2 linked regions of the Homo sapiens genome follow. The protein of the gene in region 2 interacts with the protein of the main gene of each other region in a pairwise test. Each region holds a gene or a part of one and is shown on either strand. Other genes may lie near its edges.

Region 1 (7,031 bases), on a different chromosome or scaffold from region 2:
TCTGACACCCATCAGATCTGCTGGCTGACCGAATTATACATTCTGTGGATAGAGAGTTCTCAAAGTAACATTGATCCATGATATTTTGTTGCTGGATGAGAGGAGCAGTTTCTGGCTTTAACCCAACAGTTCTTAGGTGTGAAGACCATAATGAAGATGGTTCATTACTGTTCACTCTCTTCCCAGAAGCAGAGTTATCAACGTGAAAAGGCAAACCTGTTCTCTCAGAATTTTCTATATTAAGCCACTCAGAAAATTTGCATTCATTCGGTTTTTCAAGTTTCTGTTCATCTGACTGGTGGATATGTTCTCTTGCATTATGGTCCTTGGGTATTTGTAGACTGGATGAAGGAAATAACTTTCCATTGTCTTCATGTACATGTGATCTGAAATATGAAAATAAAAACAAAGCTAGAACACCCTATGCAAATATATGAAACTAGGGGAAAATAAACATTTGTTTTGTAGTTTGATTTTCCCAAAATACAGTTTATATTATTTTTACAACAAAACCACAAAAATGGAAAGATATTTGCAACCATTAACATTTTCAACTCTCTCCAAATCCAAACTCTTTATGTCAGAATATGTGAGTGTTTACCAGAAACACCCATCATTACCAGAATCCCATTTCTAATAATTAGAAATATAATTTTAAAAACTCACTTCAACTCAAAACACTAAAATTACATTTATTTGTAACAATATATAGAACTTGAGGAAAGTGTTAACAGTCAAACAGTACTCTAAAACATCTCCCCACCAACATTCCAAACTTTAAAGGCAATAGAGGTAGAAGTACTTAAATTTTGATATATAGCAGTATAGTATATTAATTACTTTATTATATTTTGCAAATATATTTATATTATATTTGAGGGTCTTGCTATGTTGCCTAGGCTGGCTTTAAACTGGCCTCAAGTGATCCTGCTGCCTCAGCCTCCTCAGTAGCTAGGATTACAGACATGTACCACCACATCACACCTGGCTGTATAATAGTTTAAAATAATGTAATCAAGATTATCTTTAGGTAATAGTTATTTTCTAAGGTGAGGGTAAATGATGCCATATTGCAAATTATTTTTCTTATATGAATTATGTGGAATTGAATTAGAATGCAATGGTTAAAGAGAGTTGAGGATTTGCTAGGTAGATGGAGCTATAATCAAATCTCAGCTCGATAGTTTTGGTCACATTACTTAACCTAAGCTTCAAATTTTCTCTTGTAAAATATCACCTACCTCATAAGAATGCTGTGAGGATTGAAACAGACAATCAGATACTGTACCTGGTACTTTGTAAGCTCTCTATCCTTAGATCCACATTGTATTAATGATTCCCAATAAGAAAGGCATCTCAATACTATAGACCCATTGCTTTCAAAGTAATAATATGTATTTATGCCCTTCTGATAAACAACGTGCCTATAATACATGTATTTAGGGAAAAAAAATATGGTTACCTTTTTATCAAATGATTTTTTATTTGTAAATGTGATTCTGGGTGGAATTCATGAGATTTATAGCCTGCTTCCAAATTCCTGAGTTCTTTTCTAAAGCCTAGGGTTGGGTGGGGTGGGGAGAAGAGATGAGGAAAACAAAATTATTTAAATTATGTTACAGAATTTATTTCATTTATACTTTTCTATATTTACATAAAGCTTTCTATAAAAGGTAATCTCTTCCAATTTAAAAAAATGAATTCTTTAAGACCCAACTCAAAATAACAGTTCTTTTTGGAATGCTTTATGCAAAATTTCTTCAGTTTATTATCACTTGAGGGTGTCATCCATGATGGAATAGTGCTGTTCCTGCTGGGTCATGCAGATCTGTGTATGTGTTTTCCCTGTTACTTAAGACAAGATCTTTACTGACCAAGTGTTAACAGTGAAAAAAACCCTGCATTTGAAGATCGCTGGCTTGAGTTGAAGTTTGGACTCACTAATTATGGGTAGGTAAACAAGCCTTTTAACCTCTTAAAATCTCAGTTCCCTCACTTATATAATGGGATAATGATAATCCATTTTACCTACCTCATGGGAATATTAGGAATTTAAACTGAATTAAAATTGGTAGGAGGTTATTATGATAGCATATAAAATATACCACTACTAATTAGCTACCATTTATTGACTGCTTACTCAAGTTGTGAGAAGTGGATATTTCATTTAATCTTTACAATAACCTTATAAAGAAATGACTAGCAACTTGATGTTACAGATGAGAAAACAGTGGCTTAGAAAGGTTAAGTATATATATCGATATACTACAGAATTAGATCTTTATGACTCAAAAGTCCGTGCTCTTAACCATGATGCCATAATGCTTCCTAATAATTGATACTTAACTTCTCTCCTGGTTCTGACATTTAATAGGCACCAAATAGTTTTTTAATTTAATTTTAATGAAGTCTTATGAAAAAAGTTATACTAATTTACAGTGTGACTTTTGTTACTTCCAAGTGTCTTCCAAGCCTGCTACATGAGATTTCAGATACCAAATTAATCATTTTTTCTCTCTCTCTAATTATAGCTAGCTATTGATTAGAACCTAAAGGTCAATATGGCACCACATAAAATACAGCAGGTCTATTTCCCTCTGAACAACGATTCTAGGAGAATTCACTGGAGAGCCTTTAACAATATTAATGTTCAGAGTAAAACATTATCTACATTTGGATTTCTCTCTACAAAACATGACCTTAACTAAAACAGCTCTAATAAAAATGACTATTGCCCTCTAATCTTTAATACAATTAAATTAAATTAATGTCCAGACTACAGATAAAGTAGGCCCAACTGAACAAACAAAACCCTGAAAACTAAAAATTATTTTAAAAGGTAGAGATGAAGAAAAGGGAACTAAGACATTTGGATTTGTACAGGAGTTTACCTAACACCATCTCAGTTTTTGATTCCCCCTTATGGGAGAACAAGTGCTTTATATCTGAGAACCTGAAGGTCTACAGGGAGCTTTTTCCTTTACTAAGGCACAAGGGTCCTGGGGCACCAATATACTGATAGAAAAGTCACAACCACCAATGTATCAACAAAGCACAAAAGTATCTTTAATTACTTTGTGAACATCATCACCCACTTATCGTAGAAATGAGAAGCAGAAAACTGTATAAAATTATTTTAGTCATGTACCACCACAATAATGATAGCTACAGTTTATGGAATACCCAATATGTACCAAGTCTTAAGATTATGCTTGTTCAGCAATTCTCGAAGTGTGGCCTTGGACCCCGGGAGGTCTCCGAGACCCTTTCAGAGGGTCTATGAAGTCAAACTATTTTCATGATAATATTAAGATGTTACTTTACTTTTTGACTGTGTTGCCATTTACACTGATGACGCAAAAACAATAATGGGTAAAAATGTTAGCATAATTCAAGGCAGTAACACTAAACTGTACTAATTGTATTCTTCATTGCCATATACTTGTGTTTTTTAAGCCAGTTTTACTTAAAGAATGCTTGATGAAACAGTAACAATTATTTTATTAATTTACTTCATTTGCACATCTTTTTGTTATTCTATATGAGGAAATGGGAAATATGCATAAAGCACTTTTGCTGTGGTAATACTAAGCATGACACCTGTTTGAAGAAAACTTGTATCCACCACAAGTTTTGCAACTTCCCAATACTTATAAAGACTTTCTGCTAGTATCTATGGTGATAGTAACAAAAATAGTTTTTAGAAAGATATTAGTGAAATGTATCAACACTTGGAAGCCCTGCATAACTCAGCAAACCAGTATTTTTTTTTTTTTTTTTTTTTTGAGACAGAGTTTCGCTCTTGTTGCCCAGGCTGTAGTGCAATGGCACGATCTCGGCTCACTGCAACCTCCGCCTCCCAGGCTCAAGCAATTGTCCTGCCTCAGCCTCCTGAGTAGCTGGGATTTCAGGCATGCGCCACCACGCCTGGCTAATTTTTTATATTTTTAGTAGAGACGGGGTTTCTTCATATTGGTCAGGCTGGTCTCGAACTCCAAACCTCAGGTGATCCGCCAGCGTCGGCCTCCCAAAGTGCTGGGATTACAGGTGTCAGCCACCGTGCCCGGCTGCAAACCAGTATTTTTTAAATGACCCTACATGGATGTTACAAAATCATGCATGAGTAAAGTATCCATTCAAAGTGCAAGACAGACTGATGTATTTTAATGTAATGGAGGACGAAAAGTTAAATACTATGGTTTCAGATTTCACACTGCATTAAAGAAACTACTACTTGGTGTAGTGTCAAAGAATAATATCCACAATTTTTAGGAAAAGCTATTAAAATATTCCTATTTCCAACTGTATTATCTGTGTGTAAATGGGCTTTCTTCATACATGAAAACATCACAACAGTCTGATGCAAAAACAAGAATCCAGCCATCTTACATGAAGCCAAGCATTAACTGAGATTTGAAAGCATAAAACAATGCCATTCATCTCACTAAATTTTTGTTTTCAATAGTTAATTTTCATTTAAAAATGTTATTTGTGTTAGCATGTACTGGGTTTATTTCTTTAAATGAATAAATATTTTGAAAGTTTCAGTTTTAGTGCCTAATCTAGCAAATGTTGATAGACATAACCTATATAAGACATAACCTATATAAGACATAACCATAACAAAAGCTCTTTTAGGTCATAAATCCTTTTCTAAGATTATAAAGATATCTGAGGCCCAAAAGTTTGACAACTACTGTTCTAGTTGGTAATAGTTGTCTTTTAAAACATCAGTCACAACTGTTCTGTGAAACAATTCCCCTTTTTACACTTGAGGAAACTTAGGCTCAGTGAAGTTAAGTGACCTAATCTATATTCTATATATCTGGTAAGTAGGAGCATTTAAACCAATCCAGGGTTCACTCCAAAGCTAGTGCTCATGCCACTGCACTATGCCATTAACATACAAAGACATTATACTAAATCTCCTTCTGATGAAACTAGGCCACTAGTGTGAACATCAAATAACATGCTGATGCCCATAGAAGATAGCAAAATATATGGCATTAGCATGAACTGTCAATTAATCGTCTACACTTCTGTAACATTTCTAGTAAGTTTTTCTGCATTCTCCCGTATTTTTAGTTGACATTTTCATCATGTTCATTTATCTCATTTTCCTCTCATTCTCCTGTTTCTACTTTACTGTACACCAAATCTATGAAGACTGCAAAGAAAACAAAGTTATTAAAGCAGTGATTTTATTTTTTAAACAATAAGTGTTCTTTATCTTAGATATTTTTTAGGTATTGCCCTATAGGGGAAAAATAATCTATATTTGATTATGATCAGGCTCTGCAAGTTAAATCTTGGAAGCAATTTCCAAGAAAGAGTCATGTAATATACATGAGAATTTAATACCCTCTATGCCAACATCGCTCCATATAGTAAATAATAAAAACTTAAGATGGTAGAATGAGAGGAACTATAAATCTGGCATTCATTTAAGATTTAACACGTTTACTTCCACTAAATTGCTGTAAGCGCTCTGATTATATACGTGCCTTTAAAAAAAAAAATTTGCCCAGAAGTTAACACAGTATCTAGCATACAAAAGACATTCAAATGAAGGTCTGCAGAATAAACAATTGCCTCAAAAACACAGTTTTACTTCTTTTAAGTCACCTCCACCCTGCCCATCATGTTCCCAACTCAGTGGTGCAAGACAAGTTAAGTATGAATTGAGACAAATCTTATCTTTCCCTCCCACTTAAGTCTATAAGTGCTATACTCATAACACTTTTAAAAAGCAGTAAAATTTATCCCAGAGTCTCTCTAGAAGGAATATATTATTTTTCATGTTTAAGAAAATCACTGTGGGTAAGCCTGACACACTGCCTGAGGCTCGAAAACTTTGCCAATCTTTTCAACAGCTATTTTATGATTAAAAAAAGATGTGACAAGAAATAAGATGTCAAAAAGAACTTCAATAATTTGTCAATGTTCACAGCTTAATTTTTAAGTTGAAATGTAATTTGCTACCCAGTGTGATTTTTAACTTCATATTATTAGCCAATTCATAATTTATTCACCAATTCATAATTTCAAGTTTAATATTCACAAACAAGAAACAAGTAAATATTTAGTTCTTAAGTAATTCTTTACTTTTATAAATTATTCACACAATGGGCAGCAGGAGGCAGCATAGGTTTTATGAGCATGTTTGAAATTTTAATATCACTGTGGCAGGCATTCAACCAAGTGGTTTGACTTCAGAATTCCAACTAACTTAAAAATAGATATGTTATTTTTCTCTTCTGCTGACATAGACATCCATGTGTCTTTGTGAGGAATTTTGGCTCCAGGTTATTCGCAAATCTAAGTCCAATTTTAACGCTTTGACACAGAAAAAAAAAACTCAGTATCAAGGCAAGAAACTTTAATAATGCCCATTTTGATTCTGTATACAAAAAAACCCAAAGCAGAGTATTCAAGAAATCAAAATATATATTTCATCTAAAAAAAAGACCTATGTTTAAAATAGACATATATATATATTTACAAACCCTAAACATTAAACAGCAATAATCAAATCAATGACTGAATTTACAATAAAAATACATTTGAAATAAATTTGAATATTTTAGAAAAATCAGAAAACTTTAACTAGATAAATATTTATGGATAAATTTACTACATACTAAAAGGAGTAGAGAGATACTTTAATATGTAGTAATAATCTATACTATCTGAAACCTAAATTTGGGGATTTTACAAAATAATAAAGCAGGAGTCAATAAATGCTTTTTGCACTTGGATTATAATTTAAAGGAAAAGCAAATATTGCTATTTTGCTACAAAGCAAATTTCAATCCCAGAAGTTTAGTTTTAAAAAAGTACATAGGTAGCCATTTGGTGGTCCTGGGTAGGCCACAGCAAGAGAAGAGATTATGTGTTACCAGTTTGTGAAATTCTTAGAGAAAAAATGTTTAAAATGCATAGAAAAAAAATCGGCTGACAAAAGTACTTCTCTAAATATACTTTCTAATGTATTTATCTTAAATGAACAAACTTGGTAGTTTGCCAAAAAC
Region 2 (7,031 bases):
CTGGACTGTGGGTCCATGGAGAATGGCAGCCCAGTCCAATTACTTCTGCAATCCCATGATCAGGCACAGGGCATGACACACAGAAGTCCTTCCAACGAAGTTTCATAAAGGACAAAAGGGTGCTAAGAGGGCCTCTGAGCTCCACCTATGGCATCCAGAAGTACCCCAAGTCAGCCTAGACAAAAAGAAATGAAACAAAGCCAACGAGCCTCACCCTGGGTAGGTGAGGACATCAAGGCCCAGGGAGCTGAAGCCCTTTGCCCCAGTTCCCACGGGAGTTGACAGGCTGAGACAGAGCCCAAGCCTTGTTTCTGATGGAAAGGCTGGGGTTCCTGCCAGTGCTACAGTGACACCCAGCCCAGGAAGGAGGGCTAGCCTGGTGCAGGCCCCAGAGCATCTTCCCTCAGCTGTGACAATACTAATGCTCCTGGCTAGGAAGTCACCTAAGGGACAGGGCAAGGCAGTGGCCCACCCTTAATACCAGTTTCTGCCCTACCCCAGAGTGTCCAGGGTCCTCTTCCCAGGAGTTCTTCAGCCTCTAGACTCCCTCAGCCCTGGCTTCTGTCCCCACTCAGCACTCTTGGGGAACATGGCACACTCTGGGCCCTGGGGGACTGGGGAATCCTCAAGACAGGCCTTTTTGCCTGTTTTGGTGTCTCTGGCCTCCTTCTTTCTCCCTTCTCAGCCAAGAAGTAGGCAGGAGAGGCTGAGAGGCAGGAAATTACCCTGACTGGAATGATCGTGCAGTTCCTGAGGAGCCCTGCTTGGCTCCGCACTGGGGTGGAGGCTGGCCACAGCATGAGAATGACAAAAACAAGAATGCCGGCCAGAGATCCAGGGCCTTGCACTCTCCAAGAAATCCTGATCTGTTCTTGGCAGCACCCCAAACCCAAGCTGCCTGCCCTCAAAGGCCAATCCTTGCTCCCCACTCAAAAATATTTTAATGATTTCCTGTTTCCTGCAACTGCCTGGAATCCAAAAGCTTCTCCTGTCCTTCAACGCCCCCCAGAATGTAGCCTTCACACACTGAGGTCTGAGGGTAAAGACAGGCCTGAGTTCAAATCCTGACTCTGACTCTGTCGCCTCTGTGTGATCTTGGGCAAGTCACTTCATTCACCTCTCTGCCTCCATTTCTGCATGAAGTCCTTAGCAGAGGGATAGGCACACGGTAAGCACAAGTCTCTGCTACTGTTATTACTCATTCGAATCCACCCCAGCCAGATCTGTCTGTATACTGTCCCCTCTAATTATCCACCCCGTGCTTATTTCATGCTGTGCCTTCTACTTGGAATGCCCAATTCCTTTTCCTCTTTTGGTCCAAACCCCTATCAACATTGTTCAATCTTCATCCTTTAATGGCTGCTGGGGTACCCATGATGGGGAGCACAAAAGGTATGAAGACAAAGAAATTTATAGGCACCCTGCCTGGGTGACCCCTCCCCTTGGTGAGGGATGAGCATCTCCAGGAGAGGTACTTTTTGGTGGAGGTAGTGTAGCATAGTAGTTCAGAGTATGAAGTCTATAGTCAGAATGCCTGGCTTTAAACCTTGAGTTTATATGTATAAAGTTCTTAGAATAGCTCCTAGTAAAGACTAAGCACTCGATGTGTGTTTTTGTTTTTTTTTTTTTGAGATGGGGTCTCGCTCTGTTGCCCTGGCTGGAATGCAATGGCAAGATCTCGGCTCACTGCCACCTCCACCTCCTGGGTTCAAGCGACCTTCCTGCCTCAGCCCCCCGAGTAACTGGAATTATAGGCATGCACCACCATACCCAGCTAATTTTTATATTTTTAGTAGAGATGAGGTTTCACCATGTTGGTCAGGCTGGTCTCGAACTCCTGACCTCAGGTGATCTGCCTGCCTCGGCCTCCCAAAGTGCTGGGATTACAGGCGTGAGCCACCATGCCCGGACTAGCACTCAATATTTTTTGCCTAGAATGATCATTATTAATACATCCTCCCATCCTGGAACTGTGATGCTCCATGACTGGAAAATGAGGTCCAAGACACCTCAGGTTGCTAAGTTTCCTGAAACTGCCCTTCTATCCCTCTATCTTCCCAGGTTCTCACCAGCAACTGGGAGGGAGGCAGATGGACCAGAATAGCCACACTAACTGGGGGAAAAACAGGCTCAAGGAATAACTGATGAGCACCAGGTACCAGACAGCGGGGCATTAGGGACCCGAGGTTACCCCCACCCACTGACACATGTGACATTTCACTGTCACTCTCTCTTGTCTTGCTTTAAACCAGTGCCTGCTGAAGGTGACTAGCTACTCTGAGGTTTACATCATGAACCCTCTCCCTCACCCTGGGTCAGGTCATGCTGCCTTACCATGGCTTGGAAAATCCACCCTCCCTTATCCTGTGCATTTCAAAAAGTCACTGGGATACCAACAACTTCTGCTCACTCCCGCCTGCAGGGCTTTTACTAAGAGAGCTCTTTCAAACCTGCTTAGTTGGCAGGACAGTGTAGTGGTCAGAGGCAGGCTCTGCCATCAGACTGGTTGGGTCTGTTCCACCACTTGTTCTACGTGTGACTTTGAACACATCACTTCACCTCTGAGTCCCGATGTCCTCATCTGTTGAATAGGGCTAATGATACGGTTGTGATGCGGACTGAGATCATACCTGAAAAGTGTCTATAAAAGAGTACCTAGCATAGTCAATGCTGAAAAATGCTACCTACTATTACAAATACCTTGCAGCATGAGTTTTGTCTTATACAGACAGTGTTCTCAGAAACAAAGCTGTAAAGTGAGGCCAGATACATAAAATCCATAATGTTGTCTGAACTGGAAGGGATCTCAGATGATGGTATGCACACCTCCATCAAGCGTCATAGCCTGATGCCCTTAGAGGCCAGGTATATATCAGAAATGCCCAAAGGGGGGTTGGTGGGAGCAGAGGCAGACTAGGGCACTTGTGCAGGGTCTAAAGGGCATGCTCAACATTAAGCTCTATATTATTGCTGCCACTAGGAAAACAGATCTTGTTGAGTTGCTAGATCTTTTGACTTCTCAAGAAAGGCTGGAAATCTCATTTTTAGGGAAAAATTCTTGATTCTTTGTACCACTCACATTTATTTAAAAACCCAACACAACAAAATAAAACCAAACCAAAGTATGGGTTCAATAAGACATGTCTGTAGGTCAGATTCAGCTCTGGGAAAGCCAGTTCACAGCCTCTGCATTGCCTCATAAAGTTGAGGCCTACAGCTTATGTGACTTGTCTAATGCCACAGAGCGAGAGAGCTCTCACTGAGCCTAGTCCAACCTTTTTCAAGTAGGCATGGCCTTCTGGGACACCCCCGCCACTTACCTGTGTTTGCATTGCTCCCAATACTGTTGATGGCTGGCGGCACTGAGCTGGATGGGTGGAAGGGCACGTGTCCATTTTCCCGGGGTGGCTTGTCCTGCCAGCCTGGCCCTGCCTCCCCAGGGCCTAGCTCTGCAGGGCCCCCCCACTCATCTGAGCCTTGACGTGAATGGTAGGAGGGCTCTGGCCGGGAGCGGAAGCCACTAGCCAACCGCTCTTCCAGGTGGCTCAGCCAGAGGGCCAGTGCGTTGCGGTCCTCCAGTGTGGTGGCTGGGTGGATGAGGGCATAGGAAAGCAGCTGGCGACTCTCCTCGATGAAAGCATTGCTCTCGATTGAGTAGGCCAGCACTTTCTGCAGTAGCCTCATGTACTCCGACTTGGCCTCTGTGTTGCCTGGCTGAAGCAGGGGAAGGTGGGACAGCAGGAGGGACACCACCTTCTCTTTGGACTCCTGCTGCCACTGGCTGACGATGGCTACAGAAGGGATAAGAAGAAATATCAGGAGAGCCAGGGTGGGGTACTCCTATTCACCTGAGAGCACTGCCTATGGCCTATTCCCTCAGCTCCAATCTTCTTTTCATAACGATTTTCTTTTCATAACTCCCAAACTTATCCCTCATATAGGTGAGATCAAACACACTGACCCTGCCTCTGGAGTAATTTTTGTCTTATTTTTTTTAAGAGATGGGGTCTCACTATGTTGCCCAGGCTGCAGTGCAGTGGCTATTCACAAGTGCAATCCCACTATTGATCAGCACGGGAGTTTTGACCTGCTCCATTTCCAAACTGGGCCAGTTCACCCCTCCTTAGGCAACCTGGTGGTCCCCCACTCCTAGGAGGTCACCATACTGGGGCCACACTTAGTGCAGACACCCAATCAGCATAGCACACTATAGCCCAGAACTCCTGGACTCAGGCAATCCTCTTGCCTCAGCCTCCCAAGTAGCTGGTACTACAGTCATGTGCCCACCACAGCTGGTGTAGAGTAATTTTTCTTTGTTCTATCACTCCTGTTCTCAGAAACCTGCAGTGCCTCCCAATCAGCCAAACTTGCTACTCTGGAATCTGAACAACTCCTGTCCCCAGGCCTGCTCTCATGCTTTATCTCCATGACTCCTTCCTCCATTCTTCATGGCCTCTATGCCATTTCCCCTGCCAAAAAGCAGTCTCCTTCCTGAATGGAGAAGGCAGTGGTATATGGTAGTTAAAAGCTTGGGCTCTGGAATCAGATGGTCTAGACACCCCAGCTTACTAGCTAGATCTTGGTAAGCTACCTTGAACCTCATGGAGCACTAAATTATCTGCGAAATTTTGGAGATAATTACAGTACCCAATTCACAGTGTTGCTTTGAGATTCAATGAGCTAGCAAAGAACACAAAGTGGTTTGGCGACATAATAAATGCTTGCTATTGTTTTTTAACTGGTCTCTCTGCTTCTAGATTCTCCCCTTCCAATCGATCCCATACATCCAGATGCATTTATCTTCCTAAATCACAACAGGATGTCATGTTCCTGACCAGGAGTTTATAATGGCAACCAGCAAGCACCAACAGACTCAAGTCCAAGAACTCCTAGCCTAACATCACCTTCATTTCCAGGGCACCCTCCATCTCCCATTCCTCCAGATAAAGACTCAGCTCAGGATATCTCCCCATCTTCCTTGGGGTTCTCTCCACAGTATGTATTTATCCAAGCTCCACACCTTGGCTGAGATTCAAGGTTTTGGCCCGCAACAACCTCCTTCCTCCTATACAAATTCTCTTTTGTAGATGGCCTAACTTACTACCTTCCTCCAGGAAGCATTCCCTGGCTGTTCCATGTCATGGTCATCTTGACCTCTCCTTTCTATCCCACTGTGTGAGGACCTGAGTCTACCCTGTGGAGATAAGCCAGGTTTCCCTTTTCTTTTTTTTTGAGGCGGAGTCTCGCTCTGTCGCCCAGGCTGGAGTGCAGTGGCGCGATCTTGGCTCACTGCAAGCTCCACCTTCTGAGTTCATGCCATTCTACTGCCTCAGCCTCCCGAGTAGCTGGGACTACAGGCGCCCACCACCACGCCCAGCTTATTTTTTGTATTTTTAGTAGAGACAGGGTTTCACCGCATTAGCCAAGATGGTCTCGATCTCCTGACCTCGTGATCCACCCGCCTCAGCCTCCCAAAGTGCTGGGATTACAGGCGTGAGCCACTGCGCCCGGCCTCAGGTTTCCCCTTTCAACCCACAAGGGAGGTCCCTAAGAATATGGCCCCAGGCTGGCCACATCAAAGAAGGCTTGGGTAGGAACTGTTACAAGTCTGACTCTCCCCCTCAAAGACCTTATTAGCACTGGGCGTGGTGGCTCACGCCTGTAATCCCAGCACTCTGGGAGGCTGAGGCAGGTGGATCACCTGAGGTCAGGAGCTGGAGACCAGCCTGGCCGACATGGTGAAAGCCTGTCTCTACTAAAAATACAAAAATTAACCGGGCATGGTGGTGGATGCCTGTAATTCCAGCTACTTGGGAGGCTGAGGCAGGAGAATCACTTGAACTCGGGAGGTGGAGGTTGCAGTGAGCCGAGATCGCGCCACTGCACTCCAGCCTGGGGGCAAAGTGAGACTCCGTCTCAAAAAAAAAAAAAAAAAAAAGAAAAAGAAAAAAAAAACCTCATTAGCACTTCTGTGACTAGCTAAACAGGGTGGAAGATGGAGATAATGCTGACAGGACAAGGAGAGGGACAAAAAATACCAATACTTGGGAAAAGAGACAAAGATTTAGGTCTGAGGCCAACTACGCTCTCACCCTTGGGCAACTGAGCTCACATCTGTAGCCAAGGTGATGACTTACAAATATCTCACAAAGGAGTTCTGAGAGATGTGCTAATGGTGAGGTCTTGGAAATGGGCAAAGGAGCTGGCTCTAACCAGACAGAGCTAGGACCCCAAAGGAGTGGGTGATGAAAAGGAATAGGCAGAGATGTGGCATATGTCCCTTTACCACCACTTACTGGCCATGTGACTCTGGGCAAGTGTGATCACTTCACTGAGCTCTATTTTCTCTATCTGTAAAGTGGAGCCCAGAATCATTCCTACCTGGCATGGCTGCTATGAATTATGTGAGGCCACAGCATAGAGTAAGTCCTCAGTAAACACTAGCTGCTTTTACTAGTATTGTGGTTATTATATCTCACTGTGTCTCCCTCCTTTCAGATACACACAGAGATTCTAAAGGCACAAGCCAAATCTCTGGGCCCAGGAAACCAAGAGGCTAGGAATAAGCACCTATAAGGAAAGTCTTGGAAACCTAGACATCTGAGGGTCTTTCAACCCAAGTTCCTTAGGCCTTTACGATTCCAAGGACATCTAGCATGCTTCAGGATTGACTTAAAAAAAAAGTTCCATGGACTTCTGGTCTCCTCTGCCCACACTGAAGGATGGACACCTGGCCTTGCATACAAACTCAGAAATGCCCTGTCTGTAGCCCTATTTCTCTTAATGATCCCCTTAGAACTCTGTGGCCTAGAATTCACATACACTCCTAATTCTGCTTAAGTTTGTAGCCTTAGGAAAATGAATCTCACACAGTTCCTAACTCCTGGCTATAAAGACTGTGCATTTTCTTGGCCTGGGGCTCTTTGCTCTAAGCTTCCAAGAGAGAACACCTGTTTGTTAGTTTTTGTTTTCTATTTTTCTGAGATGGAGTCTCGCTCTATTGCCCAGGCTGGAGTGCAGTGATCTCAGCT

The links. The genes of interacting proteins can lie anywhere in the genome.
Region 1: the proteins of SAMD4B (region 2) and USP53 interact in binary tests that used the Homo sapiens proteins (3 or more experiments, as listed by UniProt).

The regions. Positions count from the first base shown.
Region 1 is NC_000004.12:119,285,693-119,292,723, reverse strand, and holds part of USP53 (ubiquitin carboxyl-terminal hydrolase 53), read right to left. Parts: intron 1,560-7,031; coding exon 1,463-1,559; intron 387-1,462; coding exon 1-386. UniProt on the Homo sapiens protein: Deubiquitinase that mediates 'Lys-63'-linked deubiquitination of tight junction proteins, such as MARVELD2 and LSR, and which is involved in the survival of auditory hair cells and hearing.
Region 2 is NC_000019.10:39,366,415-39,373,445, reverse strand, and holds part of SAMD4B (protein Smaug homolog 2), read right to left. Parts: intron 4,285-7,031; exon of another isoform or gene 3,998-4,284; intron 3,792-3,997; coding exon 3,321-3,791; intron 1-3,320.